Homo sapiens: one gene and its partner. The protein of the gene in region 2 purifies or fractionates together with the protein of the main gene of each other region. This does not show direct contact. Each region holds a gene or a part of one and is shown on either strand. Other genes may lie near its edges.

Evidence for each region.
Region 1: the proteins of TTYH1 (region 2) and DHRS7 purify together in Homo sapiens (affinity purification with mass spectrometry; one large-scale study listed by BioGRID and IntAct). This does not show direct contact.

What each region holds. Positions count from the first base shown.
Region 1 is NC_000014.9:60,151,899-60,155,398, reverse strand, and holds part of DHRS7 (dehydrogenase/reductase SDR family member 7 isoform 1 precursor), read left to right. Parts: intron 1-1,333; coding exon 1,334-1,440; exon of another isoform or gene 1,441-1,447; intron 1,448-2,220; coding exon 2,221-2,460; intron 2,461-3,500. UniProt on the Homo sapiens protein: NADPH-dependent oxidoreductase which catalyzes the reduction of a variety of compounds bearing carbonyl groups including steroids, retinoids and xenobiotics.
Region 2 is NC_000019.10:54,418,464-54,421,963, forward strand, and holds part of TTYH1 (protein tweety homolog 1), read left to right. Parts: exon of another isoform or gene 1-254; intron 255-664; coding exon 665-843; intron 844-2,813; coding exon 2,814-2,925; intron 2,926-3,500. UniProt on the Homo sapiens protein: Calcium-independent, swelling-dependent volume-regulated anion channel (VRAC-swell) which plays a pivotal role in the process of regulatory volume decrease (RVD) in the brain through the efflux of anions like chloride and organic osmolytes like glutamate.

The DNA of each region.
Region 1 (3,500 bases), on a different chromosome or scaffold from region 2:
TGGCTCATTGCAACTTCCGCCTCACAGGTTCAAGCGATTCTTGTACCTCAGCCTCCTGAGTAGCTGGGGCCACAGACGTGCACCACCACACCCAGCTAATTTTTGTATTTTTAATGGAGACGGGGTTTCACCATGTTGGCCATGCTGGTCTCGACCTCCTGACCTCAGGTGATCTGCCTGCCTCGGCCTCCCAAAATGCTGGGATTACAGGTGTGAGCCACCGCACCCAGCCATTATGTTCACATTGAAAGCAACTTCAAGTATAAAGTTATTATTTTTCATGGAACATTTATTAATAGTACCTAAACTGAGATAATTTTGAATTTTCCAACAGACCATTTTTTGGGCCATCTCTCTACCTGTCATTCTTTTAAATCTTTAACTTTGCTGATCGAGCTAACCACCCAGAAATGAGAGTTAGTTGCCACAGTAGTGCTCAGCAGGGCAACAGGCCTCTTTCATGATACTGCTTTCAAAGGCCTCTTGTGTTTTTGCACTGGGCCACTTCTTTTGATAGTTGTTCCTCTACTGCTGTGACTTGCAAGTCCTGTACTGGTGGAGTAGATGAACCAGGTCAGCATTTCTTACCTGGCACAAGGCTGTTTCCTTTTATCTTGCAGATCTGTAGTGCCCACTTTTTCATTTAATACAGTTGATGTTTCACGCTTAACTCTTTTGCCCATGAAGTCTTTTTACCTCTTCTATTTTCTATACTTGCTTGTTTTTCTTACTGATGTTACTTGTATTTCAAGGTTAGAGTCCAGGAAAATTAGTTTCAGTTGTTCTTTTGATGAACAGAAAGCCAATCACAAAGCAGCAGCATGTTTCTTGGTTGGGAATTTCAGGCATGTGTCCTTTTCCCTGTTTACCTCCAGGAATCCTTAGCCTCTGGAGAGAAGCTTCTATATGTCATTTGACTGTAGGACTCTGAGCTTCTTACTGATTTTAAGCACAAGTAGTTGTTTTGTGTGTAGAAGAGCAACTCATCTTTGTGAGCCTATCACAAAACAAAGGTACCTCTGTACTTCTAAAGAAATTGCTCTAAAATATTTGCTCTTTTCTAGTTTGTAGTATAATCTTGATTTCTATCAGAAATCAAATTGTAAAGTTAGACTGCATATTCAAGTTGCCATTCTACTTCCTGTGAGGCCAGCCAGCTTTTTGTCTGATATAACCACTAGTCCTCTTCCTGACCACCGAGAGGAACTTTCACAGGGCCACCCAGAAATGAGTTTGTTGCCAAGTCCTGTTGCAGGGTGGGTGTTAGTGGGAGTAGCAAGGAGCTTGACTGAACTATGGCATGACTTCCACACAAATTTTTGTCTTTATTTAGAGAATGGCAATTTAAAAGAAAAAGATATACTTGTTTTGCCCCTTGACCTGACCGACACTGGTTCCCATGAAGCGGCTACCAAAGCTGTTCTCCAGGAGTTTGGTAGAGTAAGTAGCATCTTATATTGATATAGTCTTGCTTTGAAGTAACTGCAGAAGAGATTCCCATCCGTGGTGCTGTCATACAAAGGGCTTTAGGCAAGTGGGGTCCATGCAGTGAGATCGGGCCCATGAGTTGGGCCCCTTAATCTCTGAGCCTTTGTCATTATGGAATTAGTACTTTTCATGTCTTAACAAGTACAAATTCCTCCATGTAGAACAAAAGAAGCTAAAAATTCACGGCTGCTTTTATTTATTTATTTATGTATTTTGAGACAAAGTCTTGCTCTGTCGCCCAGGCTGGAGTGCAGTGGTGTGATATCGGTTCACTGCAATCTCCGCCTCCCAGGTTTAAGGGATTCTCCTGCCTCAGCCTCCTGAGTAGCTGGGATTACAGGCATGCACCATCACGCCCAGCTAATTTTTATATTTTTTAGTAGAGATGGGGTTTCACCATGTTGGTCAGGCTGGTCTTGAACTCCTGACCTCATGGTCCACCCTCCTCAGCCTCCCAAAGTGCAGGGATTACAGGCTACTGTGCCCAGCTGGCTGCTTTTATTTATTTTAATGACAATTATTAACTTTCACAAAAAGTCACCTAAAACGGGAATTTAATTCCACAGGTAAATTCAGGGCTTTATTTTATCTTTTTAATTGCTGACTTCTGGAAATATACCATTGTTCCATTGATTCTTTAAGTTAACAAAATAACCAACCATCCATAGGAATTCCATCAATCTATCCACAAGACATCCCCCAAACACCCCTTTTCTGATTTTATTTAACTAGATCGACATTCTGGTCAACAATGGTGGAATGTCCCAGCGTTCTCTGTGCATGGATACCAGCTTGGATGTCTACAGAAAGCTAATAGAGCTTAACTACTTAGGGACGGTGTCCTTGACAAAATGTGTTCTGCCTCACATGATCGAGAGGAAGCAAGGAAAGATTGTTACTGTGAATAGCATCCTGGGTATCATATCTGTACCTCTTTCCATTGGATACTGTGCTAGCAAGCATGCTCTCCGGGTAAGGCTGCTCAAACTCAACTCTGATAGAACTGACTTAAATGTGTATATGGGGGATATGGCCATCACTGTGTGAGGTCCTTGGAACTGGAAGTGATGTGGGGAGACAGAGAGACCCAAGGAGACTTTTGGTAGAGGACACCCCCAGTAGATGCTAAAAAAGACTTGATCCACACATGCCTCTAACTTGTTGAACAAATAAATATGTATCAAGCACTGCATTGTGCCATGTACTACAACAGACCCTGGGGATATAAAGATAATAAGATGTGGTCTCTGCCCTCAAAAAGTGTATCATCTATTTAACATGTTACTCTTCACCTTATCCTTATTCCTACTAAATCTTCATGGAAAATTGGGGGTCCACTTCTCCTTTCTTCTACATACACTTCAGGATGTACTTTTTCCTCCCCATTTCTGTGACTTCTTTTCCTTGCCCCTTGTAGTTGGTGTTTATTTTGCCTGGTCTAATTATATATGCATGTCAGAAATAGGTACTTCCCACAGGATGATTAGTCCTGGTCTCATATCCTTACTGGGAAAAATCTTGACTGTATTCTCTCTGGTTTCATTGGAAGAAGAAAATCTAGTCAAGGCAGAGGCAAGGAGAGAAGCTTGATTTGGACTGCATAACTTACGATGTATAAATATTAGAAATGGATGAATTTTTAATGGTGGCTTAAGACTGGATATAAAGAAATTATAAGGCCAATAGGAAAAGAATGATTAAGGAAGACACAAAATTTATATTTAAAGCTGTTGAAGTCAGTTTAAGTAGAATGTTTCACTGTTGGAATCATGAGATGCAATAGCTACATGGTCATCATGGTTTCATGAAAATTTGAAGCTTTGGTTCTTTAGGACATCTTTTTTCTGCTGCAAAGTGCAGACAATTGCAGACAGTGATGAAGCGGAATGCTATACTGATGATTTCCTCATATTTAGTAACAGGCATCAGTCACTTCCTGTGGAGCAGTTGGGCAAGCCTCAGGCAGGCAGATGAGGGAGGGCGGCCACCCATCTGTTTGGCACCACGTGTCT
Region 2 (3,500 bases):
CTTTCTGCCTGTGCCTCCCTCCATCTCTCTCTCTCTCTCTTTCTGTTCTGTCTTCACTCTTCCAGTTTCCATTTCTGAGTCTTGCATACACACACACACACACGTTGCCACACAGCCCCTCGTCCCGTCCCTGGGTGACAAGCTCAGGCGCTGTGGGGTGTAGCGCTCAGCAGCAGGGGAGACAGTGAGCAGGGAGGAGAGGGGGAGGAAGCACGCCTCCCCCAGCCTGGCCCGAGGCACCAGGAACAGGTGCCCCCACACCCCCACCCGCCCCCTGATCCCACACGATTGTGGAGGGGCCTTGGCAGGTCCTTGGGAAAACCTCCATTCCAACTGCTGGCTGCAGAGAGAAGGAAACCCAGGCTCGGAGAAGGGGCGGTTCCTGCTAAAGATTGCACAGCCAATGGAGGGCAGAGCAGAATTGGGACCCAAGGCTTGGGGCCCCCAGTTGGAAGCTCCCTCCAGCAAGCTGGCCCTGACACCTGGAGCCCCAGCTGCCAGCCTGGGAGGGGCTGGGACCCAATCTCCCCCAAGATTAGGCCAGGGATGTCTCCCACCTTCACTCTGACATCCCAGACCCCGACCCCCCAGCCACGCAGGAAGGGGGATCTGAGTGTGGAACACACGGGTGCCCTCGGAGGTCTGATGTCACCCCCTTCCCCAGGCCTTGTTGCTGGTGGCGGCCTTGGCGGGCCTGGGCTTGGGCCTGAGCCTCATTTTCATCGCTGTCTACCTCATCCGCTTCTGCTGCTGCCGGCCCCCCGAGCCCCCCGGGTCCAAGATCCCCTCGCCCGGGGGAGGCTGCGTCACCTGGAGCTGCATTGTCGCCCTTCTCGCCGGCTGGTAATGGGGCCCCAGGGTGGGTGGGCGGTGGGGACAGGGCTCCCCAAGCTCTTTGCTGGCCTTCCTGGGGGTGTCCTCCGGGGACATGGAGGAAGCAGACAGGAAGGAGGAAACTCCCTCGTCCCTGTCCCTGCCATTTGCAAGCCCACTTCAGCGCACAGCAGGAAGGACTGTCCCATTTGATGGATGGAGAAAGTGAGGCTCTGGAGAGGAAGTGAATCAAGGGCAGCCATCTGGTGAGAAGGCGCAGGGGCAGTCAGATGGCCTGGTTTTGGTGGCTCTCCCATTGAATAGCTGTGTGACCTAAGGGAGTGATAGTCTCCCTGGGCCTCAATTTCCACATCTGTAAACTGGGCATTATCATCTCGCCCACCTCCTGCGGGGGTAAGATGGAGAGAAAGCACAGTGTCTGACTTGCAGCTACTCTCAGCCAACATTAACTGGTGATGTCTGTCATTCCGTCATTCACCAGCTCATTCATTCGACAACTGTTTATTGAGTATTTACTATGTGCCAGATACTGACCAAGCCAGGCAAGGAGCCCCTCGTGCAGCTTATGTTCTAATCAGGGAGACGGACGATAAATAGATATAATCACCCTCCAAGAGCACCTCATCTGTGCCCAGACCTGAGCTGGTCTAATTCCTTCTCACAATAATGCTGCTGGATTCAGGGGTGTCAGGCCCAGTTTCCAAAGAGGAAGGCTCAGGGACAGAGGGGAGGTCACCTTTCAAGGCCACGTGGCTTAAGAGGCAGCACAGAGATTCAGACCCAGGTTAGTAGGACCCCCTCACACCCCTCAAAGCGAGCTTAGGGGGCTTCCAATGTGAACACACCAGCTACCAAGAACGAGCTCTGAGCACAGCCCCCTCCCCGGCAGGGCAGCACCCACAGGTTGCAGACAGCAATCCTCTTCCACAGACGGGGGGTCCCAGAGGGCCAGACGCCTGCCCCGGACCCACAGCGGGCAAGGGGAGGGACCTGTAGGGGTGGCCTGTATTCAGGACGCTTCCTCCTCCGGCTCTCTGGCGTGGGGGGAGACAGGGGAGGTGGACAAAGGCCCAGTGGGGGAGAGACACGGCCCCAGCCCCCGCAGCCTGGGAACAAGAGGAGCTTTGTAGGACTCTGAACAATGGGGCGGGGACACTGGGCGTCCGACCCGAGGGATGGGGGTGGAGGCCCAGCCGGGGCTGGGAACCGGGAGGGTGTCAGGCTCCCGCCCCCTCCACTGCGGGACACCGGCCGGGGGCGGGGACGGGAGGGGTCTGGGGCCCCACATTCAGGTCCCACAATGGAGCTCTGTGTGTCGGTAGGGTGGGGGCGGGGGCACGGCTTCTCGCCCATCCTCCAGCCTCCCTCCCACATTCCCTTACTTCCCTCCCAGCTGGCCCGACGCTTGGGTCCCGGGTGGGGGAAGGCCGAGAGCTCCAGGCTCAGCGTCCCCCCAGGAGATGGTGGCAGCTGCCCCCCTTGTACCCTTAGGAACCCCCAGGAGGTGGGGGCGGAGAACGTCTCAGCACTGAAGGGTTGGCACTGCAGGCCCCAAGGACCCTAGGGCACCCTAGGACAGGTGCCAGGAGGGCTGCCTGCCTGGCAAAGGATGCGGGGGAAGGGTGTGGGGCAGGCAGTCCTAGGGAGGGGAAGACGGCCCATCCCGGAGCTGGGTGTGACTGGGGTTCTGCTCCAGGGAGGTGCGAGTTAAATCGGGGGCTCCCTCCCCCCCACCACTCCACCCACCATTAACATCACAATGACGTCCCTCCGCTGGGGGAGTGAGGCCTTCCCGTTCCCTTGGCAACCGACGGGGGCCAGGCTGAAGTCGCCCTTTTCCCACGGGCTGGCCCAATGAGGTGGGGCTGAGATGGGAGGGGTGGATAAGAAGGCGAGGTGGAGGGGATGGGGTGGGAGGGGACGGTGGCCCCCGGGGTCCTGGGACCCGCTGAGATTCCTCTCCCTCCTCCTCCGCTCAGCACTGGCATTGGCATCGGTTTCTATGGCAACAGTGAGACCAGTGATGGGGTGTCCCAGCTCAGCTCTGCGCTGCTGCACGCCAACCACACACTCAGCACCATTGACCACCTGGTGAGGGGCCAGCAACCAGTGGGACCCCAGACCCACACCTGGACGGGCTCCCCACACCCAAGGACAAAGGGATCCAAACTCAGAGCTAAGACCCCAGGCTTGAAGCTTAGGAACCCAGATTCAGAACTTCATCCTGAGACCCACAGACCTCAGACTATCCACCCAACCCCCGACCCTGGCTGCAAATTGAGGACCTCACACACAGGCCCAGCCCTGGACCTTACCTGGAACCCCCAAGCCACACAGAAACCAAGCACCAGCGACACCAGCCCCTGTCCACGGGCCAGATCCAGGGCCCCAGACCTGATTCTTGGCCCGTAAGCAAGCTCAGGGACCCCCGCCCTGAGGCCCAGGTCCCCGACTTGAGGCTTCAGCTCCGACATCAGCTCCAGGATTCTGGGCCCTGGGGCTGAGGCCTGGCCCCACTTCATGCCTTAGATTCCATGTCCAGCTGCAGACTCTAGACCATGGGACCCAGACTTGAGACCCCAGATTCTGGAAGGCAGATGAAAACTTCAGACCTAAAGCTCCACACTTAATCTCAGTCCTGGGGCTGGACTTACTACCCTGGGCTC